Regions from separate parts of the Homo sapiens genome. Here region 2 is linked to region 1. Evidence: fine-mapped expression QTL. Tissue or cell type: whole blood. Region 1 holds a variant in brackets; the other region holds the start of a gene. All regions are shown on one strand. Distances are from middle to middle. Region 1 overlaps RNF144B (ring finger protein 144B). Region 2 holds the start of RNF144B (ring finger protein 144B).

Evidence for each region.
Region 2: RNF144B starts here. The variant in region 1 is fine-mapped to the expression of RNF144B in whole blood (INTERVAL, PIP above 0.99). The same link has a PIP of 0.9 or more in blood mononuclear cells.

Annotation. Positions count from the first base shown.
Region 1 is chr6:18,404,853-18,421,524 of GRCh38, reverse strand. All of the region lies in intron 2 of RNF144B (ring finger protein 144B), which reads right to left. LOC124901271 (a long non-coding RNA gene) reads right to left here and starts at 234. Exons shown (of 2, transcript XR_007059487.1): 1 at 1-234. RefSeq lists an enhancer at 5,694-6,893. The variant G/C (reference allele first, on the strand shown) is at 9,287.
Region 2 is chr6:18,379,825-18,396,496 of GRCh38, reverse strand. It overlaps RNF144B (ring finger protein 144B), which reads right to left and starts at 9,147. Exons shown (of 8, transcript NM_182757.4): 1 at 8,867-9,147.

The DNA.
Region 1 (16,672 bases):
AATCTGGGCCCAGTGAATGCTGAACACGTCAAAATTTTTAGTGATTCCAACAGAGAAAGGTGACAAGATCACTGAATTACCACTTAGTCATTGGAACACATCAAACTCAGAGCCTAACTGGAAAAAGCAATTTACCCAAAGTTAAACATCACTCATCACATTAATGTTAACTTACATTTTATTGGTCTGTAATTTTATTTTATATATATGTGTGTGTGTGTGTGTGTGTGTGTGTGTGTGTGTGTGTGTGTATAATATATAATTTTTTTTTTTGAGATGGTTTCTCACTCTGTCACCCAGGCTGGAGTGAAGTGGTACGATCTCAGCTCACTGCAACCTCTGCCTCCTGGGGTCAAGCAATCTTCTCACCTCAGCCTCTGAGTAGCTGGGACCACAGGTGCGCACCACCATGCCAGGCTATTTTGTATTTTTGGTAGAGACAGAGTTTCGCCATGTTGCTCAGGCTGATCTTGAACTCCTGAGCTCAAGTGATCTGTCTGCCTCAGCCTCCCATAGTGCTAAGATCTCAGGCATGAGCCACTATGCCTGGCCTTATTGGTCTGTAATTTTAATCAATATTAAGTTTGTATAATTATTGTGGTGTTCTTATTCTTTAAGAGATATATGCCTAAATATGCTTATATACTACTTAGTATCATGTTTGTATAAGTTTTCGTAAGACTCTAATAAAGGAAATTTTAAAATAGTTTGATATTAAGTTCCAATTCTTTTCCCCTTCAAAAGGAAGCCACATAAAATCATCAAAAGGAGGGAGAATGGACTGATTCTCAATAGCAGTGAGGCTGGTGGTATTGCCTTCTCACTTGGGGACATACTAGAATATCAGACTATCCAGAAGGAATTTTATAAATGATGCAACCTCCCCCGCTCCCCAAATTCTCCAGAAGACTTGGCTTTTCCTCCTCTACTTGCCAACCTTTCTATGATGACCGTAGGTAACACCAGATGTTTATTGTACACATGAGCAATGTAGCACGCCCAGCATGCTGCATTGCAAATGACTATCAACTTGCCTGCCTCCTCTATAGCCTAGAAGCTCCTTCTAGATCTAGATTATATCTGCTCCTCTTCATGTCCCCTACAAGCACCTAATCAATCACAGGACCTGGCACATAGTAGACACTCAGGCTTCTCTGAGAGCTGGAAGCCTGAATCCAGCACTTACTGGTTGAGTATCCCTAATCTGAAAATCCAAAATCTGAAATGCTCCAAAATCCAAAACTTTTTAAGCACCAATATGGTGCTCAAAGGAAATGCTTATTGGAGGATTTTAGACTTTAGATTTTCAGATTAGAGATGGTAGACTAGTAAGTATAATGCAAATATTCCAAAATCAAAAAAAAAATCAGAAACCCGAAACACTACTGGTCCCAAGCATTTCAGATAAGGAGATAGGGGATACTCAGTCTGTGCTCAACTTTGTGGCCAAGCTCCTTCACCTCTGATAACTGAAACATATGAACCCACCCAAACACACATCCATCCTCTGTTCTTCTTTTCTTGACACATAGGAGCCAACTCTGCTTTTCTGGTTCCCATCTCCTCCTGCCTTTCAGGAAATTTACCTATTCATTACCTGTTTTCTTTCCTATGTCTTGAATTTTGTCCTGTCTATACTTGAACATGTTCAAAATATCCTAATCAAAGAAATCAAAGAAAAGTCATAATAAAACAGCATAGAACAGCCCTCTCTCACTCCTCTTCCTGGCTGTATACTGCCTTCTTCACTCCTCAACTCTTCACAATCAAATGTTTGAAAGAGTTGTCTTCCCTCACTCCTTCACCAATCCCATCCCAACTCCTCCCTGCCACTCAACTGAAGTGGCTCTAGGTCACTGAATCCAGTACACATTTCTTCCTTCCCAACCTCTCAACAGCAGTATCACACACAGCTAACCACTCCCACCTTCCTGAAACCCTTTTTCCCCTTGTCTTCTGGATCCCATACTCTTCTGGTTTTCATTCTTCCTCTCTAGTCACTCTTTCTCAATCTTCTGCATTTTCCTCAACTCAACTTTTAAATGCTGGAATTTCAGGAAAGGACCTAAACTCTCTTCTTTCTACACTTTCTTCCTGGGTCGCCTCATTTGCTATATAGAACCAGTTGTGCTAGTCCACTGCCTATTTGCTCTCAGGAGAATATATCCCAAAAGGCCAGTGGTTCCCTAGCAGAGAGCAGTGCCCCCGAAGAAAATGATCTAAGCCTGGTATGTTTTTATGGACAAGAAACACTGGAAGATATGGGACACTACTGGGAAGGGTATCCTTAATAAAAAGCCATAGGCAGGAGGAGGAGGGGTGGATGGACAGAGGATAAGGAACTTCAGAGATAACATTCGCCTGCCTTACTATTCAACTACCTTACTGACAATGTTTCTCAAACTTGAATGTCCATCCAAGTTATTTGAGGATCCCATCAAAAATGCAGATTCTGATTCAGTGGATCTTGGGTGGGGTCTGAGGTTTTGCCCTCCTTGTAAGTTCCCAGGTCTCGTTGGTGCCACTGGCACACAAACCACACTTGTAAGTACCAAGACCCATGTCAAAGATTCTCCACATCAGCTTTTTAATAGAATTATCTGGGAAGGTTTCCAGAAGTCCAATGCCCAGGCCATACCACAGACCAATTAATTCAGACTCTCTAAGAGAAGGATCCAGGTGTCAGTGTATATTATATATATAGCATTATTATATATGATATGTAAATATTATATATTTTATATTATGTCATGTTTTATTGAGATATAATTCAGATATCTATAACTGAGATATAATTCACGTACCCATACAATGCACCCATCTAAAGTGTACAATTCAGTATTTTTAGTATATTCACAGTGTATAACTATCACCAAATTTGATTTTAGAACATTTCATAATCCCAAAAGAAACTCTGTGCCCATTAGTACATGCTCCCCATTTCTCCCCCAGATCCTCCATGCACAGCCCTAGGGAACCACCATTTGACTTTCTGTATGTATAGATCTTCCTACTCTCTACATTTCATATAAATGGAATGATACAATATATGGTCCTTTGTCAATGGCTTCACTTAGCATAATGTTTTCAAGATTCATACATGTTGTAGCATGTATTGGTACTTCATTTATTTTATTGCTGAATAGTATGCCATTGTGTGAATATACCACATTTTGTTTATACTTTCATCAGTTGATGGACATTTGGGTTGTTTCCAGTTGAGTGGTATTATGAATTATGCTGCTATGAGCAAGTTTTCATGTGGACATACATTTTCGTTTCTCTTGGATATTTACCTAGGAGTAGGTATGGTATATGGTAACTCTATCTTTGCCTTTTGAGGAACTGCTAGATGATTTTCCAAAGCAATTGCATCATTTTCCATTCCCACCAGCAGTGTATGAGAGTTTCAACTTCTTTAAATTCTCATCAAAACTCGTTATTTTCTGTCTTTTTTATTATAGCCATCTTAATGTGAAGTCGAATATCATTGTGGTTTCGATTTGCATTGCCCTGTTGGCTAGTGATTTTGAGCATCTTTTCACATGCTTATTGGTAATTTGTACATCATCTCTGAAGAAGTCCCTATTCAGAACTATCTATACTTTCATCTATTTGTAACTGAGTTATTTGTGTTTTCATTACTGAGTTGTAAGAATTCTTTATATATTCTAGCTGTATCCCTTATGAGATATGACTTGCAAATATTTCCTCCCATTCTGTGAGTTATCTTTTAACTTTCTTGATGATGTCCATTGAAGCAAAAAGGTCTTTAATTTTGATGAAGTCCAATTTATCTGCTTTTTCTTTTGTCGCTTATGCTTTTGGTGTCACATCTAAGAATGTCTTGCCTAACCCAAGATCATGAAAATTTTTCTATTTTCCTATGTTTTCTTCTTCTAAGAGTTCTATAGTTTCAGCTGTTATAGGTGTATGGTCCATTTTTGTTAATGTTTGTCTGTGGTATGAGGAAGATCACAGACATCTTAATTCTTTTGCAAACAGATATCCAGTTGTCCAGCACCATTTGCTGAAAAACATTTCTTTCCTCTTTGAATTGTCTTGGCACCCTTGTTGAAAATCAAATGACAAAAAATAAGATTTATTTATTTATTTATGGACTCTCAATTCTATTCCATTGATCTATCTGTCCATCCTCATGACAGTATCACAATGTTTTGATTACTGTCGCTCTGTAATCAGTTTTGAAATGAGGAATAGAGCTCTCCAACTCTGTTCTTTTTCCAGATTGTTTCACCATTCTAGGTTGCTCAAATTTCCATAGGAATTTTGGGATAAGCCTAGAATTTAGTCGGAATTTTTACAAGAGGTGTGTTGAATCTGTAAATCCATTTGGGGAGTACTGCCACCTTAACAAGTCTTCCAATCCATGAAGATGGGATATCTTTTATTTAGTCTTTTAAAATTTCTTTCTAGAGTATTTTGCAGTTTTCAGAGAATTTTCTACTTTGGTAAATTTATCCCTAAATATTTTATTCCTTTTAATGATATTGTAAATGGAATTATTTTCTTATTAATGCAATTATATTATTTCTTACTAGTATATGGAAATACAATTGATTCTGTACATTGATCTTATATTCTGCCACCTTGCTGAACTGTTATCAATATTTTTAAACTCTTGAAGTGATTCCCATTTGCAACCAAGTCTAAGCACCACTAGTTCAGTACCACCCATGCCCTCCATTCTAATCAGGGAAGATACTTTTATGCCCCTCATCACTCTTTTCTACCCAACCTCTCCATAGAGAATACAAGCATTCAGCTAGTTCCAAAAGAAACAGCAAAGGAAGCTTAAGGGGGAAATTATATATGCAAAATTTAAAACTCTGATTGAGAGCCTTTAAATACTTTAGCCCAAAATAGTGCCGTTACATTTTCTGGAAAAGATTACTAAGATCCACCTTGTAAGTTTGAGGACAGTCATTCAATATGGGAGATTAAATCTGGACTCCAATCAAAAGTACCTCCAGTTCCCACCAACCAAGAGTGATCAAACACGTCTATCTTTATCTCAAATGATCATGAAATATCTAAATTAAGAAACTCTATGACAGAAATAGCTCTGAAGAGAAACCCATTGGAAATGCTGCAGCCTGGTCCAGGCTTCACAAGAAAGCCAAACAAATTTGCTAAAATGGAAGAACATTCCAATCAGAGCAGTGAACTGGCACTAGCGTTGGAAAAATCTGCTTCCAATTTGAGTAATTCAATCACTCATCCATTAACCTTTCAGAGGAGTTTCCTTTTGTCCCACTTGTGCTGCCTTTCTTAACAGAAGGAGGCCCCACTTTTTATACTAATCCCAAAGAGATCCCTCTGGCCCAGGTGCTATCTTATGACACAGTATGCTCAGAAAAGTAACTGACCATTCCAGGAGAAAGAAAACAAGAAGGCTTGCCAAGTTTACATCCTTCTACTTTCTCCAAAGAAACATTAGCCTTCAGAACTGTAAGCCCTCAGCTGACACCAAAGCCTTAGCACACAGACCCAGCACAGGCAGTGAGAATAAGCATACCACGGATTCAGCATAGCCAGATTCCACTGAATTCATTTGTCATTTCATTCTTCCTCCTACTATTAGAGTCTCTGCTTGAACTGTTAGCGCTTCTGAATCTCTAAAAGTGCACTTAAGGTCCCAGCAACACAGAAAAAAAAAACAAAACCCAAGTTAGTAAAGGTTCAAGAAACCCCTTCAACCATGAGGTACGGCTATGCTAGTCACCTGAATAAAATATAACCATTCAACCCAATCTAAGCAAACACATTGAGTACTCACATTCCACTAGAGAATGCAGAATGAATATTAAACTACACCATGCAAAGGACAGCAGGCTAAACAGACGGAGAGATATGTGATAAAGCAAGCAAAAAGTTAATGTTAGAATCCGCTATGATTTGAATGATGGTGTCCCCTTCAAAATTTACGTTAAAACTGAACCCCCACGGGAGGTGATTAAGTCACGAAGACCCCACTCTCATGAATGGAACTGGCACCCTTATGAAAGGGCTCAAGGTTAAAGGGAGTGCTCTCTTGCCCTTCCATCTCTTCTGTCACGTGAGGACACAGAATTTCTCCCCTCCAGAGGAAGCAACAGTAAGACGCCATCTTGGAAGCAGAGAGCCGCCATCACGGGACACCAATCCTGCCAGCACGTTGATATTGGACTTTCCAGCCTTCAGAACTATGAGTAGTGGATTTCTGTTGTTGATAAATTACCTAGTCTCGCGTATTTTGTTATATCAACACAAAAGGACTTAGGCACAATCTAAGAGATAGTTGGTATACGGTCAGCCCCCCGTCCTCAGATTTCACATCCATGGATTCAACCAACCACGGACAGAAAATATATTTTTAAAATCACAATAAGAAATACACAAAAAATACAGTAGAAAACCCATTTATATAGATTTACATTGTATTAGATATTATAAGTTACCTAAAGATGATTTAAAGTATATGGGAGGATGTACATAGGTTACATGCAAATACTACACCATTCTATATAAGGGACTTGAGCATTCATGAATTTGGGTATCTTTGGGGTGGGGAGTGGGAAGGGGCTTGGAACCAATATCCTGAAGATACCAAGGGATAACTCTACAGGTATTTGTTGTAAAAATCTTTATCTTGTTTCATAACAAACTGTTGTACAATTTTTTCCATCTTTTTAAAAGTTTTTGTTCTTTTTCACCTTCAAGAATAGAAACAGGATGTTGTACAATATTTTAAAACTAAAAGCAAAAGATAAAATTTATACCATTCATCAAATCTCAGATTTTAATACTGCTTAAAAGCAGAAATCCTATATTTTAAATAAAATCTGTCTCAGTATTTAAACCAGTTTGAATAAATTATAATGAAATAATATCTTAATTAAAACTAATCATATATATACCTACTACGTATCTATACAAATTAAAACATTTTTAAATAAAACTAGTGGTAGCAATATTAATAACTATCTGAATTTTTGAAATTTTAAAAGAATATTAACACTGTATAAGTGACAGAATAAAGCTAACTCATCACCAACATTTTTTCCTACAGGATATAACCTACAAAGCCAGCATGCAAAATAGCTCATATTAATGACCCAAAAGTTGGGAAAGAGTGACGCTTAACAGTTTCCTCAAGAAGATATTATTTCTATACATGGAATGATAGGAACAAGGGACATCAGTTAAGAATAGACCTAACCCTTAAACTTCCTCTTGAGCTACATTACAAAAGAGAATCTCTTAGATTTAAGAGAACTGAACTCTGAAAAAGTAGAAAAGGTTGGACAATGACTAGGTTGGTTATTAGAAATCTCATTTTATTCAAAATTATTTTGAAATAATGATATTCAATGACTCCACAGCAAAATCAGCATCTTTCTAATTATAAGTTACATTGCATCAAGACCACGACTATTCCTCACCTCACAATATTCCCCCGAGGATTTATCCTGCAAAACCTGGAATTTTTTTTAACATTTTCTAAAAAGCAAGTTTTTAGAAGTCAAGGGGCTTCATATTGAGTGGGCTTTTTTCATATTAATTGACATAATTTGAACCAGTCTTCCTTTTCTGAAGGTTATCAATACCATAAACCGTAAGATAAAGTTTTTCAAAGGCTAGACATCATTCCATATTAAAACAATCTTTAATTAACACATTACCTAGGGAAAGCAGATGTTAAGCTATAATATTTTTTTCCATTTGCAGAAAAGGTCTCTGTGCTCTGCAGTAACCCATGCATTAAACACCCTCAACACAGAAGAATCACTTGGAAACAACCGTCAGACTGAGGTCCTCTTAAGAACACCAGTAACTTCCACAGACACAATGCGCCTGGAGGGTGGGAGAACATCAGTCATTGAGGCAGAATGCCTGGCCTTGAACCTTGACTTCAGTTTCAACATCTGAAAATATGCTAAATGCACTGGGAACTTCCAGTTGTGTAAATCAGACCTCTGAATGTCTCGGCCTTGGTTTCCTCAAATAACTTACCCGAAATCACACAGTGGAAAGTTCACAGAACACTCATGTTCATGCTCAATCTCTAATATGAGGCCATGGCCACCACTATATTCTGATTACATACTTTCTGTTCTCTGAAAAACTCCTTGGATTTTTTAAACCAGTAGTTCTTTACATTTGTTTTGTACTGACTAAACTTTTACGTATATAAAATCAGTAGCCAGTTGTCAATTTTGCATTTTATAGGCTATTGTCAAGCTTTAGACATTTCAGGTTAAGATCACAAAAGCCAAATATGGGCCTTCATCCATTTTCATGCTAACAAAAAAAATTTAGGAACCACATACTATGTGCTAGGCCATACATTATATATTTTCACAGAGCTTGTTTTTATTTCTTCCAAACGACACTATGATGTAGGGATTAACATTACAGATCCTGGGCAAGTTATTTAACTCTGAATTGGTTTATCTGTAAACTGGAAGAGTAAATGGGGGAAAAAATAGTACCCTTGCATATTACATATTATATGAAAGGTACTCAAATGCCCTTGCTTTTCCTTCCGTAATTTTTTTAAACAGATGAATAAAATGAGGTTTAAGCAGATTGAAAAAATACCCTACATTCATGTAGTAAATACCTCACACATATTTTCCAGAAGAGTCAAACCAAAAAGACCTCCTTACTGTGGGTGGGAAATGATTCAAAACCATGGAGGCTTTCAGTTAACACAGAGCCATGTATTTCCATGGAAATGAGGCACTGTGTCTCACCTGATTCCAAGGGGTACACTGCATATCTGGAATCCACATAGATAAGCCTTATATAACCAATCTTTAATGAACTGAAATATACAGAAAATGGGATTTTAAAAAACTGAATTTTCTAGTTAACTCACCACCCTTTTTCAACTTGCCTAAATTTTTTAAACCTCCTTTACCTACTTAGTAACATTTTGTCACTGGACATGAATTTTTTTGTGTGATAAGGCATCTCCCTCAGTCTGAACACCACCATTTTTTCATTCATTCATGTCTTCTATGTGTAATATACTTTTCTAGATATGGCCCATTTTTTTCTAACTTGATTACTATTAATACCAAGGTATAAAATCAGTTGAAACTATACTGGCACTGAGCATACTGTATGTTTTTTAAAGATAGATTCATGAGATGAGCTTCTCTTACAACAATTTGCTTCCTCCTAAAAAGAGGAAGTATGGATTAAACCATGAGATATGTTCTTTTCACATACCAGATTACAGAAGGTGAAAAGTTGGAAAATACCCGGAGTGTCAAAA[G/C]AGAGGCCTCTGTTCCTACTCTGTTGGTGGAGTTGCCAAGCTGGTGCAACAGTTTGGAACAGTAATTTGGTAACACATACTGATTTAAAATGTACATCTATTTTGGTTAGGCAATTCTATTTCTAAAAAGTTATCCTAAGGACAGGTATTTTCACATTTATATAAGTAAAAAAAATGTATTCATAATAGCAAAAACTAGAAACAACCTTAAAATCCATTATTTAGGAGGGGCCCAGTTAAATAAATTTTCATACAACCATATCATAGAACACTATACAATACTTAAAAAGGAAGGTTGGTCTGTATATTTTTGCACAGAAACTTGTCCACAATGTACTATGTTTGTAAAACTCAAGTTAAAAGTATCTGTAGTTAAAGATCCCATTTCTCTATTAAGTGATGTGCGTAAGTACACAGGGAAAGAGTCTAGAAGAAAGTACAGGTGGGCTGGGCGTGGTGGCTCACGCCTGTAATCCCAGCACTTTGGGAGGCTGAGGTGGACAGATCACCTGAGGTCAGGAGCTCGAGACCAGCCTGGCCAACCCCCTCTGTACTAAAAATACAAAAATTAGTTGGGTGCGGTGGCGCATGTTTGTAATCCCAGCTACTTGGGAGGCTGAGGCAGAAGAATCACTTGAACCCAGGAGGCAGAGATTGCAATGAGCCGAGATCACACCACTGTACTCCACCCTGAGCGACAGGGCACAACTCCGTCTCAAAAAAAAAAAAAAAAAAAAAAAATATATATATATATATATATATATATATATATATATGAATCATGCACATGCTTTTTGAGGTTTTTTGGTTTATTTTTAAATTAGCATGTGTTACATTTATAATTAAAAATTATCTTCAATGTAATAAACCAAGAGAGCCCTGAAACATGATTATTTTGTACTTTAGGGTCCTATTTCTTCTATGAGTACTAGCCATGATTTTTAAAAATGTACTTTCACTGGGCACGGTGGCTTATTCCTGTAATCCCAGCACTTTGGGAGGCCGAGGCAGGCAGATCATAAGATCAGGAGATCGAGACCATCCTGGCTAACATGGTGAAATCCCGTCTCTACTAAAAATACAAAAATTCCCTGGGAGTGGTGGCACGTGCCTGTAGTCCCAGCTACTCAGGAGGCTGAGGTAGGAGAACTGCTTGAACCCGGGAGGCGGAGGTTGCAGTGAGCAGAGATCACGCCACTGCACTCCAGCCTGGCAACAGAATGAGACTCCGTCTCAAAAAAAAAGAAAAGAAAAGAAGAAAAAAAAAGAAAAGAAAGCTGACAGTATCCCAAATGGATAGGAAAAAAGAGAAATTGGGGCACAAAAATAATTTAAATACTCCAGGCATCAAAACTGCAGTCTGCCATACACATGTATCCTAAGTTGATAAGGACATTGTTCTCCGAGCTCTGCTTCAGCCTGCCATGGTTCCCTCCTCCTGCTCCAGCCTTGCCCACTTTCAGTCCATTCTCTATCCTGTACCGACGCCATCCTCCCTATCTCATTCCCAAACAAAGCCTTCCAGTGGCTCCATAATGTTTTTTTAACACAGCATACCAGGCCCTCCATCTAGTCTCTGCTTGCCTCTCTGGCCTCCTGCCTGAGCACACCCACACTTCCAACAATGTGTCCCAGGAACATCTTCCGGTTTGGTTCCTCAGCAGGTCACTCTTCCCTGATTCTGTGTTCTCACATGTGGCTGGCCTCTTTTCCCTGGAGCACTGTTCTCACCCACAGCCCCATCAACAATGCCATCAAGCAATCCCTATTATCTTTCAGTCTCAGCCCTTAGGAAACCTCCTACCTCCCTGAGTCTATTTTAGGTGGGTTTCTGTATGCTTTATAACATATTGTACTTCCTTTATCAGAGGGTCTACTGCCCACATAACAGCAGGGCTGGTTGTGTCTGATGACTGCCACTTGCTCCACAATTAACACCATGCCTGGCACACACTAGTACCAAATGGATCAGTAGAGTCTGGACAAAGGTGGGAATAGACTTAGAGAATATTGGAATAAGGGTGCAACTTCAAAAGAAGAAATACATAAACTTTGGTGACTTAGTGGCAACAATGGAAAAGTTCTCTCATCAGAAACCAACTTTTGCCTGCTCTCTGGTCATGATTTGCATGTTTGGCCAGCCTATTACATTCTGATATGTGGTTTGAAGAATTAAACTTTGGCAAAGGCATGCTTAAGGGGGGAAAAGTCTACACAACATACAAGCACAGATCACCAAACTATCTTTTCACAACTTCCTTTGTAAAAAGAAATAAAATTCTGTTCCACATTATAACATCACCCCTTACCCGAATACCAAGCCTAAAGTACTTGTTACGCCTATGATCGAAGTAAAAAATGTTATGTAGGCCGGGGCGCAGTGGCTCACGCCTGTAATCCTAACAGTTTGGGAAGACAAGGCGGGCAGGTCACTTGAGGTCAGGACATCGAGACCAGCTTGGCCAACAAGGTGAAATCCCATCTCTACTAAAAATACAAAAATTAGCCAGCATGATGGCACCTGCCTGTAATCCCAGCTACTCAGGAGGCTGAGGCAGGAGAACTGCGTGAACCCAGGAGGCGGAGGTTGCAATGAGTCAAGATCGTGCCATTGCACTCCAGCCTGGGGGACAAGAGCAAAACTCCATCTCAAAAAGTAAAAAAAAAAAAAAAAAAAGGTTATGCAAGTGAAGTTTGTCCCAAAAGAATTCTGTCAACCCAAGAGGGTGGGGGAGGGCATAAGTTACTATTTCTTAATATACCTATGGCAAGAAGGTAAGATATGTTAAAGTATGTTCAAAGAGATCTACCCAGAAAAAGAAGAGTTTTCCAGGGTTTTTTTTTTTTTTTTTTTTTTTTTTTTGAGACAGTCTCACTCAGGTGCCCGGGCTGGAGTGCAGTGGCAAGATCTCAGCTCACTGCAACCTCCACTTCCCGGGTTCAAGCAGTTCTCATGCCTCAGCCTCCCAAATAGCTGGGATTACAGGTGTGCGCCACTGTGCCTGGCAAATTTTTGTATTTTCAGTAAAGACAGGGTCTCACCATGGTGGCTAGGCTGGTCTCAAATTCCTGGCCCCAAGTGATCCACCCGCCTCGGCCTCCCAAAGTGCATGAGACACCACACCTAGCCAAATTTTCCAGTTTCTATAGAATTGTGTAAATATACTAATAAAGCAGGAATATAACACACTTAAGGAATATATCACACTTTATTAGTTAACTTAGAGGCAATGGGATGAAAGGCAGACCCTGTAAAGGTCATGAGATGCTCATTTTGCAGAGAAAAAAAAAAAAAAAAAACACTTTTCTGGACTATATAGGTGGAGGCATTACCAGAAGAAAAATAATAATTCACGGATTTGTGTCTTTAACTGTGTTCCCTAGAAATTGATTCAGGGATGGAGAATTCCATTTAGAAGAGTATGGGGTATACTCTCACCAAAGTCATGCCTATAAGGAAGTAAGGAGAATAGAAGTGGGCAGAGGGAGATCCTGACCCGCCATGCAGCTGCAGCCAGGGTCTGATCTGGCCCTACATTCCAACAGGGTACTCTCAAGGTAGGAAGGGCCCTTCGCAGCGGCACCTCATTAAGCTGAAAGGGAAAGACCTTTATATCCCTGTAGCAATCAGTCATTGTTCCATAAGCCAGTCCCTGGGAAATGGAGGATAGAAACATTGCCCTGAAGAGGGATCCGAGTGAATGCCACAGTTTCCACTACAGTCATGTTTCCATCCAAAATAGAATAAGATCATGCTAATTTGATTACAGGACCTAAATGTAGAAGATAAATGCATATTAAAATAGTAACTAGTAAGATGAATGATATATCTTCCTTACCAAACTGAAACCTCCCATAGGAAAACAATTTGGCTGGTTAAAGTAATTGAGGATTCTCAGCTTAAAGAAGAGAAAATGATGAAGAAAAAGAAATCATGGTTTTAGAAAAATCTCAAGCTGGGTACAGTGGCTCACATCTGTAATCCCAGCACTTTGGGAGGCCAAGGCGGGAGGAACACTTGAGGTCAGGAGTTCCAGACCAGGCTGACCAACATGGTGAAACCCCATCTCTATTAAAAGTACAAAAATTAGCCGGGCATGGTGACAGGCACCTATAATCCCAGCTACTCAGGAGGCTAAGGCAGGAGAATCACTTGAACCCAGGAGGCAAAGGTCACAGTGAGCTGAGATCGCACCACTGTACTCCAGCCTGGGCAACAAAATGAGATTCTGTCTGGAAAAAAAAAAAAAAAAAGAAAAAGAAAGAAAGAAAAAGAAAAATTCCAAACCAAGCCACCATTTTTACAAATGAGGAAATTCTAGAGAAATAACTTGATTCGAGTCATAGAGTTATTGACAGAATTGGAACTAATAGCAGGCCTACTTATCTCACTACTAGATAGCTCACTATTTCCTACATTGGACTGAGCACTATAGGAGAATTTTTCATGAGTAATCTGACGTCCGCCCTCTAAAAAAAAGATAACCTTCATTCAAATAATATGCAGCTAGTGAGTAGAATTAGATTTCAACCAGGAATAGTAAAATTAGATTCTAACCAATTTTATTTTAGAGAGTGGAAGTAACGCTAATAGTTAGAATTTACATAGAAACCAGTTTCAAATGAATGTAGAGCAAAGATGGTTTCAATTTAGAAATTTCCAATAATTGAATAGTCAGTACTATGGTATGTCCCAATCCTGGAAATTATCAGTCAAAAGCTAGATAACCACACTAAAAAGAGTAGAGCTATATATGCTAGCTGTATTCTGGCAGTGTACTAAGTAATTTATCTAGATTATCTACTGTAATCTTCTATATAATCTTGTGAGATGATTTCTTATTATCCCTATATTACATGAAAGAAAATGACCCAATAGACTGCCCAAAGACATTAACCCCTACCATCTGCTGGTCCAGGCCACTATCATCTCTGGCCTGGATTATTACGTTTGCCTTCTAAGTAGTCTTCTTGCTTTCACCCTGGCCCCTGTAGTTTATTCTCTATGCATAAAGGTTAATTTTGTGTGTCATCTTGGCCACAGGATGCCTCCTATATGCCTCATTTCTGGGCATGTGTGTGTGTGTTTCTGGATAAGATCAGTGATATAGCTTGGCTCTGTGTCCCCACCCAAATCTCATCTTGAATTATAACCCCCAGATGTTGAGGGAGGGACCTGGTGGGAGGTGACTAGATTATAGGGGCAGTATCCCCCATGCTGTTCCCATGATAGTGAATTCTCACGAGATCTGGTTGTTTGATAAGTGTGGTGCTCTCTTTCTCGCCTGCTACTATGTAAGACGTGGCTGCTTCCCCTTCCACCATGATTGTAAGTTTCCTGAGGCCTCCCCATCCATGCAGAACTGTGAGTCAATTAAACCTCCTTCCTTTATAGATCTCAGGTATTCTTTATAGCAGTGTGAAAACAGACTAATACAATCAGCACTTGCATCGGTAAACTGAGTAAAGCAGTTTACCCTCCCCATTGCGAGCAGGCATCATCCAATCCATTAAGGGCCTAAAAAGAACAAAAGGAGGAAAGAATTCGTCTCCCTGCCTGACTGCCTGAGCTGGGACATCAGTTTTCTCCTGCCCTCGGACTGGGACTTATACCACTGGCTCTCTTAGTTCTCAAGCCTTCAGACTTGGACTGGAAATACACCACTGGTTCTCCTGGGTCTCCAGCTTGCAGAGAGAAGATCATGGGACTTAGCCTTCATCTCCTACTACTCCCCCTACACACACACACACACACACACACACACACACACACACACACACTTTTCCAGCCACACCAGCCTCCTTTGCTGTAACAGGATACACCAAGCACACTCCCAACTTAAGACCTCCATACTGCTTCCCTCTGCCTACAACCCTCTTCTCCCAGATATCTGTATGGCTTGTTCCCCATTTCCTTCAGGTCTCTGCTCAAATAACACCTTATCACTGAGACTTCCCTGATCATCTAATAAAGTAGAAGTCCCTCTTCCCCACAGCACTCCTGACCCCCCTCACCCTATTTTTCCATAGCACAAACCATCACCTGACTTCTGTATTTACTTGTTAGCATCTATGTCTCATACGAAAAGTTGAGTTATTTGAAAACCAGGGCTTAATCTGATCGTTCACCACTATATTCAAACCATCAGAACTATGCAAGACACAGCAAATATTTGTTGAATAAATAAAGCCTAAGCTACCAAACTTGAGACCCATTCTCTTAAATGCCAAACCATACTGGCATCCCAGAAAATGACTTCTTTCATTAGGAGGGTGGGGGAACTAGAAGATCTAAGGTCACTTACAATTCTAGGACTATGATGCTATGACAAAGACATTAGGGCCTTAATAGTATGGTTTTCTTCTGCTGTTCTTTCCTCTCTTGCCACATTTTACTACTTTCCTTGAATAAGTAAGTGGTAAGCATTAGGCATGGATGAGATCATAGGTCCAGGAAGCCAGCTCCTCCTTGAGTCATCTCTAATCCATTTCTCATGCTGTTACTGTTTGCTCTTTTTCCACAGATGCCATCTGACCCTGCAGTGGCTCCGTTGTCAGTGGAAAAATATAGTGCCAATAAAATCGGCATTGTAAACCTGTGACTTGACCAATAAATACAAAAGTCACCATAGTATTGTCATTAAATCTCTTAATGGATATAAGCAGTGAGTATATTGAAGTTATTTCACAAACAAAGACAAATTCACTGATTTACTGCTAACCACCCCAAGCAAAGTTAAGGGAAAGCATAAAACTAACCTTGCGGCTGGGCACGGTGGCTCACGCCTATAATCCCAGCACTTTGGGAGGCCGAGGCAGGTGGATCACGAGGTCAGGAGTTCAAGACCAGCCTGACCTACATAGTGAAACCCCAACTCAACTAAAAATACAAAAAAAATTAGTCAGGCCTGGTGGCACATGCCTGTAATCCCAGCTACTCCGGAGGCTGAGGCAGGAGAACCACTTGAACCCGGGAGGCGGAAGTTACAGTGAGCCGAGATTGTGCCACTGCACTCCAGCCTGGGCAACAGAGCAAGACTCCATCTCAAAAATAATAATAACAATAATAATAATAATAATAATAATAAAGAAAAAAACTAACCTTGCAAGCAAGCATATTTAGGTACCAGAAACCAACAGAATAATACAGTGCTTTGAACTGGCAGAACTTAGTTCGGCCCATTTAATAGTAGTAGAAGACGTGGGAATCTGGAGCTGGAGAATTTGAAAGCTTTGGGAAAGGTTGGCAGGTCTCATGACCAGAAGAGGGGACAGAGAATCATTCTGTGGCATTGGCCTTGAGTAAGATCCCTCATTATTTCTTGTGGTTCCAGAGAATTCTCAATAAAAGGAACTTAAAATGATACTAGACTAACATATCAAGCC
Region 2 (16,672 bases), 25 kb after region 1:
CTGTTGTTCTGACCTAGCAAGAGATCTAGGTACTCTTCGAGAAATCCAAGTATTTCTCAGTCTTACTCTATATTATTTTTTTAGAAGGAAATATTAAACAGGCCAAAGTTTTAATGTACTCTTGAAAAACAAAGACATAATTGGGATACCTCTTAGAAATTAATTGGATACTCTTGAAAGACATATTGGATTCCTCTAATAATACCTCAATTATTATCCATAATGGAATACCTATAATTAGATATTTCTTAGAAATAGTCTTCTTTTGAAGGTAGAACTAAAAATTGTGGTAATCAAGACCATGTGAAACATAATTGTCTCTTACTATAAACAGTACGTAAGTTTTTACTCCTTAAAACTAAGGAGTTACATGCCTATAGGCTATGAAGTCAAAGTTATAAAAAACATATGTAATTTTTATAATAGAAAAACCTTTACATAGCAGAGATGCATTTTGTTTTTTAAAAAATTCCAAGCATTCCAAAAAGGCAGGACTTATGACTCAGTGACATAGAGGAAAAAAGTTACATATTTCATCTCCTTGAGATGTGAACAATCCAAAATGATTCTTCAAAAAGTGATTTATTTTTCTGTGTACAATAACACCAATTCCCTAAAGCAATGGCTCTCAGACATTTTTCAAGCAATGAGCTTTCAAAAACAAAAATCTTAGTCAAACCACCACTGTATAAAAGAGATTCAGGTAGACAAGTGCCAGCACCCAATAGTGGGTGTCCAGAGCCAGTCCCCTTGACCTTCCCCACTCAGCAGCCCCCCAGGCACCATTGCAGAAGCCTAAACCTGCACCATGCACAGACTAAAAACCAACCCTTTCGTTTCTCACTTTGGGCAAAACCAACAATGGATAGTTAAAAAAATGAATGAAATGCAGTGAGCACTTCATTTAAAAAAAAAAAAGAATATCAAACAAGAAATCCTTTCACCATTGATTCATTGCAAAATGAGCTCTTCAATCAGTAAACAGGAGAATCCTGAAAGCCTCTAATGAATTTCCCCACACCTGAGATGCCTGTGAATGGCTCCAAGGTTTCCTTGCATTTCTTCCTTTGTGTCATATTACTATTCACCGGTCTTCACAGCATGAAACCCCCAATAGTAGAGCCTCAGGAAGCTCAGGGCATTTGATAACACACTCCCAGCTCCTCCTGTCCCTCCCATTGGGCCACAACTTCACAGGGGCACAAGCAATTCACATCCACTCCCCTCCAGGTTTCAAGAAAAGTCTTCATTCCAGAAAGAGGCTAACTCACTCCTACTGCCTCATACCTCACATTTCTATCAAAAATAAGAAAGTGACTTGAATTATCCACCCTACCACTTGATTTTAAAAGCTAACAATTATAATTACTTTTACAGTGATTATAGATGTGACTGTGCCTCTCACCGAGTGTCAAGAACCCCTTGTGAAAAGAATTTTGGCAGAGAATGCAAGGGGCACCTTGAAATCTGACAGCTGCCTTTCAAGTTTAGGCATTCTAAGGTTGGTAGCAGGTATCACTTGCTTATATATACCTAATCATAGAACAAGACAGATTGGTTGGGCCATGTAAGGAAGGAAAGCCATTCTGAAACGTCTGAGTTTGCACTAAATTACCAGGAAAGGAGAACCAGCAGTTCTACCTGCTCTATGTGTCTCTTGCACTATAAAGTGTTCATTATATGAGAAGCAAGTACTATCTGATAGGAAAGAATGGAAAGTCGCCTTTCCCCTCGTGTCTTGTCATTAGAATTGTCAAAGAAGGGAATACTTCAGCACAGAATGTATAAGGAATTTTCATATTCTGCTGATGGCCTGAAAAAGCAATCTGCTCCAAAAATGCAAATGATGGGAGAGCCAACATTCAAAGCTTTTTTTTTTTTTTCTTGGTTGGGGGGTAGGGGACGGAGTATCACTCTGTCATCCACGCTAGAGTGCAGTGGCATGATCTCAGCTCACTGCAACCTCCACCTCCCGGGTTCAACCAATTCTCCTGCCTCAGCGTTCCAAGTAGATGGGATTTCAGGTGCCCACCACCACGCCGGGCTAATTTTTGTATTTTTAGTAGAGACGAGGTTTCACCATATTGACCAGGCTGGTCTTGAACTCCTGACCTCATGATCCGCCCACCTCGGCCTCCCAAAGTGCTGGGATTACAGGTGTAAGCCACCACACCCAGCTATTCAAAGTATTTTTAACCAATGTAGTTTATGTCTGTTTGATTATCCAAAATCAACACAGTTATTCCCTTACACAAAAAGATAGTGTAATTGGAAGGGATAATGTTTTATTAGGATACTTACCCTAATTATTATTAGGACACTTATCCCTAATTATTTTGGAATTTTTACTTTATTATGCAGAAACTTTAAAATTTGGAGAAACTGCTAAAGCACAACTAAGGAGACTAAGAGAAATAGAAAGCTACTAAAATGAATCAGCTAGATATTACTGATGCCACAGGATATTAATGTAAATAAAAATCCAGTTGATCTGCACTGAGGTCTTAATTCCAAGCTATGCTATGAAATTCTAAGAGTTACTCAAGTACAGGGGACAAACAGAAGAGGAGACATATGTATACTCTCAATGTGTTTATATGCCTTTGTGAGACATCGAGTCATCACTGTGAAGTAGCTAGAATAACAGATATGAATGCATAAATATGGGAGGGAGGTAGCAAAGGGGAAAGTTTTTGAGAAGGGTGGGTGGTGATGAAGAAAGGCTGAAGTGTTGCCTTGTAAAATGGAGACATATTCTCGGGAAGCTAATATTCTAATAAAGCAGAAAAAAAGAGCAGCAATCTAAAGGTCCCATCCTTGCCTTGTTAGGAAAGCTATCCCCATATCAGCTAAGAACACACCAGGCAACCAGTTTCCACTCAATGCAATCTGAAAATCAGCATTATGTTGATCTTGGTACTTCTGCCCAATAGAGTAGTTTGGTTAGCTACTGGTTCCTTTTCCTAACAGAAACTATTAGTGAACCCAATGGTACTAATTGAGTCTAGTAAAGTGCTGAGCATTATCAGCCATTAGCTGAAGTTCTACCCTAAATACAATCCAAATACAATGGCAGGGTGACCTGCTGGCTGGTAGCAGTAGCAACAGCAATGAAGGAAGCAAGGGCTTATGGTAGACCTCCTTTGTGGCCAGTGTTGTAGCTCTACTCTCCGCTTGCATCTCCAACCAGCTCTCTGGTCATTCAAGGACAAGATGAACCAGCGTACATTCTTTCAATCAGAAAAACAGTTCTAATGCATGCCCTAACCTAAGAGGACATGAACAAATGGAAACATAGGCTGCCCCTCTCGTAGTCAGGGAACTGCAATTACTTAAATAAACTGTATATCTATTAATTACTTTTTTTTTTTTTTTTTGAGATGGAGTCTCACTCTGTCTCCAGGCTGGAGTGCAGTGGCGCGATCTCGGCTCGCTGCAAGCTCTGCCTCCTGGGTTCACACCATTCTCCTGCCTCAGGCTCCCTAGTAGCTGGGACTACAGGTGCCCGCCATCACGCCCAGCTAATTTTTTGTATTTTTTAGTAGAGACGGGGTTTCACCATGTTAGCCAGGATGGTCTTGATCTCCTGACCTCATGATCTGCCCTTTTTAAAAGAATAATGCTCAAACTCAATGAGTACATACATGATATTACACATAAGTTGTCATTATTTGAAAAAATGAAATAGATTAGAAAATATCCTCTAGCATAAACAAACCCAGGAAATATTTAGGTCTTAGATGTAAGAAAGTAAATATTCACCTATTCAGGCTCTGTGAGGTGGCAGTATTGTATCACTGTGCCTCCTGTGGTAGAGAAGAGGACTTCTGTTTTCTCGCCACTGTTTCATGGCTTAAAGTGCTCAAAAAGCACTTTATTTAGTCTATAATTTCTTAGTTTTAACATCGTCATTTCAACAGTTTCTAGGATGGCAATGAGATCACAACTTTGTAACTTGGAGACTATTAACCTTCTAAAAATGGAACTGATATGCAAATATAGCCCTATTAACCTTTTTGTGGGTTAAAAAAAAAAAGTAGGCACTTCATCAGGAAGGAGAAGCATCTTAAAGTATTAGCAAGAACTGTTTTCCAAACAATCTCTTTGCTGCTTGAAATTAGGTTATGAATAAAGTCTGTTACAACTAATTTAGTGAGATCTAATATTTTTTCTTACAAAATATATATTGGTGCTGATGTCCAAGCATGGCCAACAATGTACATGACGTTGTGATAAGCTAACTCCAAATCCTACAGAGGACAGAACATCTGGCACATCGTTTTTTTTTTGAGACGGAGTCTCGCTCTGTCGCCCAGGCTGCAGTGCAGTGGTGCTATCTCAGCTTGCTGCAAGCTCTGCCTCCTGGGTTCACGCCATTCTCCTGCCTCAGCCTCCCAAGTAGCTGGGACTACAGGCACCTGCCACCACACCTAATTTTTTTTTTTTTTTTTTTTTTTTTTTAGTAGAGATGGGGTTTCACCATGTTAGCCAGGATGGTCTCGATCTCCTGACCTCCGTGATCCTCCCGCGTCGGCCTCCCAAAGTGCTGGGATTACAGGCGTAAGTCACCGCGCCTGGCCCTTGGCACATCTAGTTTTAACATTTGCAAACTGCTGCTCCTTTTTTTTTGAGATGGAGTCTGGCTCTGTCCCCCAGGCTGGAGTGCAGTGGCCCGATCTCGGCTCACTGCAAGCTCCGCCTCCTGGGTTCACGCCATCCTCCTGCCTCAGCCTCCCGAGTAGCTGGGACTACAGGCGCCCACCACCACGCTTGGCTAATTTTTTTGTATTTTTAGTAGAGATGTGGTTTCACCGTGTTTGCCAGGATGGTCTCGATCTCCTGACCTCGTGATCAGCCCACCTCAGCCTCCCAAAGTGCTGGGATTACAGGCATGAGCCACCGCAACTGGCTTTTTCTTAAAAGCACATTTCTTCTTGCCTTCTTTCCATGTTCTCATTACCCTACAGGGTAAGGCCCAAGAGGTAGAAATCCATTCCCAGTTTTCCAAACAATATAAACTTATCAAAGAAGGTGGGAGTGAATATGAGAATAACAGCTCAATGATATTTTTGGCATGGCAATTTTGCATTCATCATGGTAGCTACCTCTTCAATATCACCACTGTGCCTTGCCCACTCCTGTTTTAATCAGTGGTTCCCTGCCTCCCACAATTATTCACACAGCCCTGCTAAATAATTTTCTTCCCTATGCCTGGCATAACAACAAAGCTCAGAAGCAGGAAGGAACGCCACTTAAAGGCAGGTCAGACAATGATGTAATTGACCAATCAAGGAGAAGTGGTATTTCAAAGAGCCTTATAGAGCAAGAGCCAGGCTGATTTCTTGGGTCAGGACATTACCAGAAAACCAGAGCCGCTAAAGCACGAATATCTAAATCAAAAATTTTTTTTCAAATGAATAAAAGCATGTGCCAATATTACCCCCTCCTGTTAAAGTTAAAAGTTTCATATAGAAATTTTAATTAGAAACAAATTGGAAACCAGTTTGGAAGAGGAATCTTCACCCCACCTGAGCAAAGTGCAGGTGTAGATTTTTGTATGTCTTTGCCAATTAATTTCCTATAACAGGAATTTATCATGAAGGAAACAAAGTCAACACACAAAGAACAAATTCTACACATTAGGTGCTAGGGATGTAAAGGTGATTAAACCCAGCTCCTACTTATTAAGAGTCAACTAGTTGAGGAGGTTTTCAACAGAGGATTTCATATAATCATATGCAGGAGAATGTGTGGGTTTATGGTTTCAGCCACAAGTTCAACAGACAGAAACGAGTTGTCTTGTTTTATCTTCCCAAGAAAAACAAAGAACAAGTTGATGAAGGGCTGGGACTCAAACTCGTGACTTCAAAAGATTTAGAAAACAATGGGACATGGCTTTCAAAGTATGCTCTTAATAAATACTCCAAGCCATGTGATCAGAAGTATCTCCAGCTATGAATAAGAAAAGTCTATTTCACTTAGATTGCTGTGTTTTGAATTCAAGAAAGAGATCTGCTCATAGATGAGAAGATCCTCATTCCACGTTGCAGAAGCATTGGTCATTTTTACTCATTTAATATATAGTTATCCATTTTTTAATAACAACTATGGTATGATGCATTAGGTTCCAAAGTACTCACCGACTGGGTAAATAGCAAATGCCAAAGTTAATAAAACTAAAACTTTAGTCCAAGACCTCCCACATACACCTAAAGGTAAAAATTATGAATTAAAATATTTACATAAATTAACTTAGGTGTCATATACCTCTTAATGGTCAAATGGTCAAGGTAACACTACCAAGAAAATTAAGATGATCGAGGTGACAAACATCGAAGTACTTTTTATAATCTGGCAAAGCAATGTGAATTCAGAACTACCACTCTAGACCCAAGTCACTTCTGACCTTATGAGAATTTCTTCCGGACAGAGACCACATCTTAGCCATCTTTATATCCCAGCATCTAACCTAGCACCTAGCAAATCAGTCACTCAGTAGTAGAGTGGATAACTTTTCTGATTGTACTTGGAGGAGAGAAAATATTAAAGGCCTGGTTCTCATCTGTATTCACTTCCAGAAATTCACAAGCTGAAAATATTGACCATTTGTTTCAGGTAAGGAGCTTCTATAAATTAAGGTAGGCACCCCTGAAAGAAATGTTTCAGTACTTAGGAGCAATGGCTACAGATACCTATTCCCCAAAGTCCAAGTGAAAAGCATGACTTGTCTGGCAGCTTGGCCCTTTTCCCACATCCAAAATAATCAGTTGTACAAAGTAGGCTTAGTCCCAAAACTGCTCAGACTTTGTTCCTTCAGTAACATCTGGGTTCAGCATGATTCCTGACCTCTATCTCAAACTGGAGATTTCAAACACTAAAAACTTCACTCTCCAAGAAAGTAATGTCATAAAGTCAAGGCCAGGGGAAACAAAGAAGCCAGGATTAGCAGAAACACTTCGGAGAAAGGATTCTGACATACATATAAATGTTTCTAAACGTCTAAAATATTGAAATGACTTTTCAAGAAGGAAATTTTAAGTGCACCTCCTCAGATGAAAAATATTCATACTACTGAGGAGAAAGACGTTTTTCAGGAAGTTAAATGGTCATACCAGGTAGATAAAATAAGCTTTTTCTTTCCAGAGAGAGCATACTCTTCTCTCTGCTGTAGAGTTTGGCTCCAAAAACCTGGTTCATAATCTGAGACCCAAAAACTGATTATTTTAAAAAGACATGTCTTAAGCTGACCTAGTTTGGAAGCCTGAATGCCTTTAAATTGCCAATGAACTGAAACCATTCATGAGAATGGGCCTTTTGAATGCTGAGAATGTTCTTTGGGACTCAGCACAAAGATATTTGGCATAGATGACTGTAAATATTTGTAAAACTCTGGGTAAATGGGCAGGATTTGACCACACTCAAGCCCGACTTCCAGCACAGTAGTGTAGGAGAAAGTTATCTAGGGTGATTGTTTGGGGTTTTGGGGGGTTTTTTTGGTTGAGTTTTGTTTGTTTTAAATAAAAAGCCAAGCAACCCAATTCTACTACTCAACATCTTTTTCACGTTCACTATATATGTTTACCTTTTTTTAATCAAGATAATTAATTAGTCAGAGACTACTTTTGAAACTGAGGTTTTTCCCTTTCCCACTTTTCTAAGTTTATGCCCACGACAAAAATAAAAAAAAAAATGCCAGTCAAAGGTGTGCAAGGGCAGAGCAGGAGTTGTGTGAAACCATGACCTTGGATTTCATAATACAATTATCTACAAGTGGCTTTGTGGATCTGCTATAGGTTTTTCTCCCCCTCAGGATAGTTTTAGAAGTATTTAAGGCACTGCTGTCCATGAAAAGGACCCAGGTTGTGAAGGAAAGATAAACTAAGGAGAAGGAGGGACTCACAGAGGGATTTGATGTGAAAGGGACCAAGAGGCTCATTTCAGTGAAAGCTGCGGCAGACAGATACTCTAATTAGCCAGCAACTCAGTTAGGACTGGCTAGGTTCCTTTTGCCTCTTACCCACACCCTAAAAACTGAGTCATCCCAAAGTTCATTTATTTTGCTTCTGGGCACAGACACCCCCTAATCTGCTTCCTCAGAAATGTTAGATACATTGCCATTTAATTTATACCTCTCAATGTTCAAATAAACGTCCAGAAATGCCAAATCGGAAGAGCAGAGATAGTCCTGTTAAGAACCTCAGAGCTAATGTTTTGATAAGATACATGTGGCAGAAAGCAATATGAAACTGACAGTCTGTTATGAGAACATGAAAAAAGAACATTTCCCAGAGAAGGGAATTAATTTCTGGGAAATCTTTATGTGAATAGTGTATATGCATGAGGAGTAGACTTACAGCAGGATCCTTGAAACTCATGAGAAAAACAAAAGGTGTTTTAGAAAGAATAAGCAAAAGATACCTACCTTTTCCCTGCACAAACGACAATCAGTTCGATTTTAACTTAAATTTGAGAATGGCTCTCGTAGTATCAGAGTTTCACTGTTTCATTAGCAATTACCTGATAAAATAAGCACTATAATGCATAATCCGAGATTATGCCAACTTTTGGTCTCCCCTTAAGACCTAGGGAGAGGTCTGGTCTAATCTCGGATTCTACAATACATTCTATTATAGAAACTGTTTTATTAGAAATGAAACTACTTTCCTTTAACAAAGGCATTTTTCTTCTAAGTTAACAGGTGTTTAAGGCATTCAGAATGAATTCAGTTCTGTATGGTTTGAGCACTAGAGACAGAAAATCGAAAAATTGTGGTGTCACAGTGAGTTTCCTGTCCTTTTTCCTTAGTCCAGCAACACCATTCCGGTCTTGCAACGCCTGTAGCCTTTAAAAAGCTCGCTAAACCTACCTGGCAGCAGACCTGCGTTCCTCCGTCGCCGGGCTTCTCAGTAGCCTCCCTCGCGCTCACCGCCAGTCCGGGCTGCTGGCACACCGGACAGGAGCTCTTCCATTCTCTCCGTCTTTCCTCCGTGCTCTGCGGCTGACAGCTTTACACTTTGCAAGACTGCAACAGGACTTGCGCTCCCAGACCTACGGGTCGGGAGGAGGCGGAGTCCCCGACCGCCTCCTAGCCTTGACTGGCAGCTGCGATGCCCGGGACTGTTGCAGCGGGAGCGTGGGGCACAGCTCGCCAGCAGCGGTAGCAGCGCGTTTATTTATACAGGAAGCTCAGGCGCCGCACTTCCTACTTCCCATGTGGGTCGTACTTCAGCTGCAGGTGTTGGCCTTAACCCTATCCGAACCCGGGCGCGCTGCACCGACTCTACTGCTTGTCAGGACCTGTCTCTTGTTCTCCTGGGACCGCTGTTGCAGGAATTCAGAGCAGGGGGTGCAGGCAGCTGCCCCTAGCGCACTTCTTCTGCCCAGACAGGGACAGCTCACCTCTTGGCCTTAAGCGCCTGCTACCTCTCTGTCTGTACATATCCTCACAGGCCACCTTTCTTTATTTTCTCCCTCCTTCCCAGCTCTTTAAATCTCTTTCTTCTACTTCTAACAGCCCAGACCTGCCTTCCCACGTGGCAGACAACTGTTTTATAGAAACACTTCCCATGCACATCTCATCAAAAAACAGCTTGTACCTCACTTGTCCTTTTGCATCTAATGATGAAATTAGAATACCTGTGAATCAAATCGGGAATAATCTTAGTTTACCTCATAAAATACAGACACTTCTTGATGAAACAATGATTTCACTTGAAGTGCTTTGTAACTTAACTGGTTGTACCCTCAATTAAACAAAAATGTAACAAAATAATCCAGAAGCTGTGAGGTATTATGAAGTGCTTCCTTGCTCCAAACCCTTGGACACTTCATTTGTGTGACATTCATAATGAATCGCATACCTACTCATTCCCCATATCCCCCATAGATCACAATCACCTAAGTCTGCTGAACATTGCCATTTAGGAATGTCGCTCTGACACAAGAATCTGTGTTCACTCTGCAATCCCTCTCTACTTTTGCAACCACTGTCAGGAATGTGCTTCCTAAAAGGAAGGGACTCACAGGCCCTTTGTGGAAAGGATCTGTGCACGCCAACAGGCACCATTCCAAACGACACAAGCAAACATTGCTTCTCAGCCCTCCAAGTTGAAGAAAACCTCTAGGTCAAAGCAAAGTGCTGAATAACACAGTGTATCTACATGTGCCATGCTAGGGCAGGTAGGAGGACCAGCTCACCAGTCAGGGAGGAAGAGAAAAAGGACAGGGGCAATAAGATGATAAAAGAACCCACGGTAGGATATTTGAGCTTGAAAAGTCTTCCTAGCTATTTTAGCAAATAACCTGATTTTAAAAATAAGGAAACTGGGCTGGGTGCGGTGGCTCACATCTGTAATCCCAACACTTTGAGAGGCCAAGGCGGGCAGATCATCTGGGGTCAGGAGTTCAAGACCAGCCTGGCCAACATGGTGAAACCCCGTCTCTACTAAAAATACAAAAAATTAGCTGGGCGTGGTGGTGGGTGCCTATAATCTCAGCTACTCGAGAGGCTGAGGCAGGTGAATCGCTTGAACCTGGGAGGCAGAGGCTGCAGTGAGCCGAGATTGCGCCATTGCACTCCAGCCTGGGTAACAAGAGCGAAACTCTGTCTCAAAAAAAAAAAAAAAATAAGGAAACTGATGTCCAGGAAGATTTAAGAGATTGGCCCAAACCAGACACAGGCCAAGCTAGAATGAGACCTAAATCTGAGTTACATGAGGAAGGTGAATGTAAATGAAAACCATCCCAAAGGAAGTCCAACCTTCAGATTTAGCAATGGCTTAGGTTCTGAGATAATCTATTTCAAGGAATTTTCTTGGTATAGTGACCATTTTGGTGGACAGGAACTAGGAAAGATAAAAAGCAACCTCTAAGAGGTTAGTTTATTCATTGGTGTTGATGCAAATCTCCTGAGCCTTAAACCAAAGTTCAACACAGAGTCCACTTTTCAAATTACCATTCATAAATTATAATCTCTTGTTAACAGGATAAGGGAAGAAGCTGCTGCCAATATGAATGAGAACATAAGCACGAATAGTGCTGCCTATTATCCCAAATATTTTGCACAACTGAGTAACATCACCACTGATTATTTTCAACCATGCAACTATGCAAATTTTTTTTAAATTGCAGTCAAAATTTAATAAGACTAAATAAACACGTTGAATGCTATAATATTATGTGAACAAACTCTCTCAGATCTTCCTAAGGAGTCTACAGTGTGAATGGATATTCATTCTCTGGAGCATTTATTGATTTCCTCCCAGACAATCTGCTAGGTTGTATTAAGATAATGATATTAGACATGGTCTCCCTGTCCTCAAAGACCTCTCAATCCAGGGAAGGAGTAAGACAAGCAAATCAATTATCAGGGTACTGATAGTTGTACCCAATGTGTGAGTGATACATAATGTGTGATATGATAGACTTAAGCATGATGTGCTATTGGGAGCACAGAGAAGAAGAATTTAAAGGAAAGGAGTTGATGAAAAGAATCAAGTCTTCTCTGAGAAGGTGATTATATTAATCTGTTCTCACATTGCTATAAAGAAATAACTGAAACTGGGTAATTTATAAAGAAAAGAAGTTCAATTGGCTCATGGTTCTGCAGCTGCACAGGAAGCATGGCTGGGGAGCCCTCAGGGAGGTTACAATCATGGTAGAAGGTGAAGGGGAAGCAGGCACGCATGTCTTACGTGACTGGAACAGAAGCAAGGCGGGGTGGGGCAGGGAAATGCCACACATGTTTAAACAACTAGGTCTCTCAAGAACTTATTGTCACAAAAAACAGCACCAGGAGATAGTGCTAAACCATTTATGAGAACTCTGTCCCTATGGTCCAATTACCTCCCACCAGGCCCCACCTCCAACATCGGGGATTACAATTCGACCACGAGATTTGGCTGGGGACACAGATCCAAACCATATCAGTGATTTAAATCTATGTCTTCAAGTAGCCCAATAGGTGTGGTAGAGAAGGGTAAACCAGGCTGAGCAAACAGCTAAAACAAAGGGTTAGACATGAGACTCTAGGTGAAATTTTTCATAATTCAGACAGAGCTGATACATCCAGAATAAATGAATGAGGGTCTGAGCTAATGCAGTGACAACTGCCATGCAAAGGAAGGGAACCAATGGAGAGAGATTTCAGAAACAGAAGTGATGGAACTTGGTATCTGATTGGATGTTATATTAGTCCATTCTCACATTGCTATAAAGAAATACCTGAAACTGGGTAACTTATAAAGAAAAGAGATTTAATTGGCTCACAGTACTGCAGGCTTTATAGGCTTTAAGCATGATGCTGGCATCTGTTTGGCCCTCTGGAGAGGCCTGTCACATGGTCAAAGTAGGTGCAAGAGAGCGTTTCGGGGGGAGGGGGGAGGGAGGCGGTGCTACACACCTTTAAACGACCAGCTCTCACAAGAACTCACTATCCCCAGGACAGTACCTAGGGAGATGGTGCTAAACCATTCGTGAGAAATTTGCCCCCACGATGCAATCACCTCCTACCAGGCCCCACCTCCAACAATGAGGATTACATTTCAATATGAGATTTGGGCAGGGACACACATCAAAACTATATCAGATGCAGGGGGATAAGAGAAAAAGAATAGCCCCAACTGCTGGCACCACTAAGAGGGGGAATAAAAGAGAAGTGATGGTAAGGAAACCATGATAATTCAAATTAAGATCTATAGAATCAGAAGTGCCTCTGGGGCATACTGGAAAAACTGACCAGTAGGCTATCAACAGAGAGAGATCTAGGGTGGAGAGTCATTTGGGAATTGCCATCATTTAGGTGGTGGCCATAGATGAGATTACCAAAAGCTAAGACAACCCACATGCTATAGAGGGAAGCAGAGGATTTGGACCTTGGCAAACTCCACTACCCACTCATTATTATGTAACCTTAATGAAGTTATTTAATATACCCGAAACTCAGTTTTCTCATCTATAAAATAAGAATGATGACATTCATCTCATAGGCTGTTGTGAGGGTAAAAGTGGTTTTTTTAAGTAGCTACCAAAGTGCCTGATACACGGAGATGCCTGCACGATACAAATCTTGATGGGCCAGGGTGGTGGTTGGGGTGGAGGCAGTGACTGGCAGCTCCTGGAATTGTGTACTGCACAACCTGCTCAGCTGTACACCATGGTCCTGGCCTGATACACATTAGGAACTCAGTCAGTGTTATTTATCTAAGAAAGGGAAAGGGGAAGGAAAAGAAAGGGTTAAAAAAAGAGAACCCAAAAGAACATCAGTATTTAAAGGGTAGGTAAAAAAAAGGAGCCCTCAAACAAGTCTAAGAAAAAATTGCTTATTTTATACTACAAAAATAAAGGTAGGCCAGGCACAGTGGCTCACGCCTGTAATCCTAGCACTTTGGGAAAATCGCATGGCCTAAGCCCAGGCATTCAAGATTAGCCTGAGCACCTGTGATAGTGAGACCCTGTCTCTACAAACAATAAGAAATACATTAACAAGACATAGCAGCACATACCTGTAGTCCCAGCTACCCAGGAGGCTGAGGCAGGAGGATCACTTGAGCCCAGGAGGTCGAGGCTGCTGTGAGCTGTGATCACACCACTGCACTCCAAGCCTGCGCAACAGAGTGAGACCCTGTCTCAAATAAATAAATAAATACATATATTTTTTAAAAAAATAAGTAAATGTAACATTTCATATTTCAAACTGAAATGTAAAATCCAGACACTACAATCTACAAAAATATTTTTTAACTTTCTGAGCAATGACATATTACAAATTGTTCACCAGAGATTGTGCCTGTAATCCTAGCACTTTGGGAGGCCAAGGCAGGTGAATCATTTGAGGTCAGGAGTTCAAGACCAGCCTGGCCAATGGCTCACGCCTGTAATCCTAGCACTTTGGGAGGCTAAGGCAGGTGAATCATTTGAGGTCAGGCGTTCAAGTCCAGCCTGGCCAACATGGTGAAACCTTATCTCTACTAAAAATACAAAAATTAGCCAGGTATGGTGGCACATGCCTGTAATCCCAGCTACTCAGGAATCTGAGGCAGGAAAATTGTTTGAACCAGGAGGCAGAGGTTGCAGTGAGCCGTGATCACGCACCACTGCACTCCAGCCTGGGCAACAAAGCAAGACTCTGTCTCAAAAAAAAAAAAAAATTGTATTAACTGATAATATACCTAAAGTCATATAAAAGCAAATCAAAATAAATCTAAAACATACTTAAAGTTTTCCCTGCATGTGAGGCCAAAAAATAAATATAATTTACAGATCCTATATATGTGTAAGATACTGAAATAATATGTATCTACTACATAATATATAACATATAATAGGTATATATTATAAAGTGCATTCTACCCCTATATAAGAATCAACAAGTAGAATTTCTTCTTTGGAAAATTATTCTCTTTAATCAATAAAGAAAAGTCTAGAGTTGTTCTTGATATTATCCTTCTATTCTACCTTAGTACCTACGTTAGAAACACATACCTTAGACTTTACATCTTCCTTACATCCTGTGGTTAAAACATAATTTTTTTAATGGTTTGTTCGGTCTCAATAAATCAGCTATAAGAATGCAAGTACTGGGAAACCAGCTTCTGCAATAGATGCAGATCTCTCTCCACAGGAACAGATATAAGGCAAAGGTCATGGTGTTCTGACAGTTTGGTCATTTCTCATTTCCAAACAGCTACAATTTAATTTGCATTTTTCTATTGCATCTAACGGGGTGGATCTTATTCGTTCAGCATTATTGAGTGTTTCACATCTAGAACTAAGCTTAAGATAATACAAAATAAGACTATTACAAAATAGTATGATAGAAACTATGCCAGAGATGTATTCAGGGTAGCACAGCAGTCAAAGAACAGATATCGAACTACATAGAAAGTGAAACTGTGGGCCGGGCACGGTAGCTCATGCCTGTAATCCCAGCACTTTGGGAGGCCAAGGCAGGTGGATCACAAGGTCAGGAGATCGAGACCAGCCTGACCAACATGGTGAAACCCTGTGTCTACTAAAAATACAAAAATTAGCTCGGCATAGTGGCACATGCCTGTAATCCCAGCTACTTGGGAGGCTGAGGCAGGAGAATCACTTGAACCCAGGAGGCAGAGTTTGCAGTGAGCTGAGATTGTGCCACTGCACTCCAACCTGGTGACAGAGCGAGACTCTGTCTCAAAAAAAAAAAAAAAAAAAAAAGAAAGTAAAACTGTGACCAGAGGACATCATCCAGTTACATACACATATATAGGACATACACATATAGGACATACATCCAGTCATGTAGTATGATAACATAAGTTTCACAAAACTTGAGACATGTCATCTTGGTTATATTTCATACTTAACATGAAGTATCTCAACGCTTTACAGAGCAAGTCAAAACCAACTGGGACCCAACAAGAAAAAAACAGAATCATGTCCAACTGCCATTGCCATTATTCCACATGAGAGCCCATAATGACTCAGGATAGAGAGCTGAATGAGAGATCAAGACTCCACGGGATTCTGTCGTCCAGGACTCTCATATCCTATATGACACCACTAGCAAGTTAGGGTTAAGGACCAATGAGATCGTGGAGTTCAGCACCTCACTCTCTCCAGAAAAAAATGATTCTGCACTAGCCCTGAATTAAAATTCTCCACTAGAGAGTCAGAAGAAATTGTCTTGATAATCCTTATGTTTGCAAGGTTTACGGTAATCCTGCTATTACTGTCACCTCCAAATTCCTGCATAAGACAATCAATTTTGGGGGGAAAAAATCCCCAGTGTTCCCATAGTCATCACCACAGCCAATGTATTAACTAGTTTACAGGAAATGAAGCACTTCGTACTGTGCATTTGCATCCAGCATTGACACAGAGGACTGCCCTGAATTAAGATTCAAATTACTTCTTGGCTTAACAGATGGGGAACTCAATTCTTGGAATTCAGACTCCACCCTACAGACACCAAATTAGTCACAGGTAGGAATATTATAGATGTTAACTTTCCAGCAGGACTTTATTTTGAAAGGCACCTTAAAAACTTGTTTTCTCTATGACAGAAATGTCACGTCCTTCTTTTCTCCACCTTCTCCTTTCCCCATCTCCTCCCTCTTCCCGCAAAATAGTGAATCACCAAGTCCCCAATGAAACCAGGAAACCAGACAGAGTTAACAAACACTACCATCTGCAACAGATCAAAGAAACAAAAGTGAAAACATGGAAGCCAGGGATGGATGGAGTATGGAGAGGAGCAGAGAACCACTGCATGGGGAAATAAATGCAGGTACCTCAAGGGGGAGGGACCCTGTCCTGGATCCTACAGGAGACACAATATCCCCTATGCTGGCAAAGTCTATTTCCCTTCTACAGTTACTACTGGGTACCTGCCACCCTCTATACCCTCCATACCTATACCTTGAGAATATGTCTCAAGAGGGTTGGCTGTTGTTTCAATACATCTCCCCACAGCACATGTCACAGGACAGCCCTCGAGAAACATCTCATGCCTTAGTCTGTGCAGCAACAACCACAGACTCTGTGTGCCACCACGTTTACATCTCCAACAAAAAGGAACCTCGGAGAGGTCCTTCTTACATATCAGCAGTCCTAAAATAGATCTTTCTCATTCCCCTGAAAAGGAGTCACATTCAGATTAAACACATGACCGTGGGTTTAAATAAGCAATCAT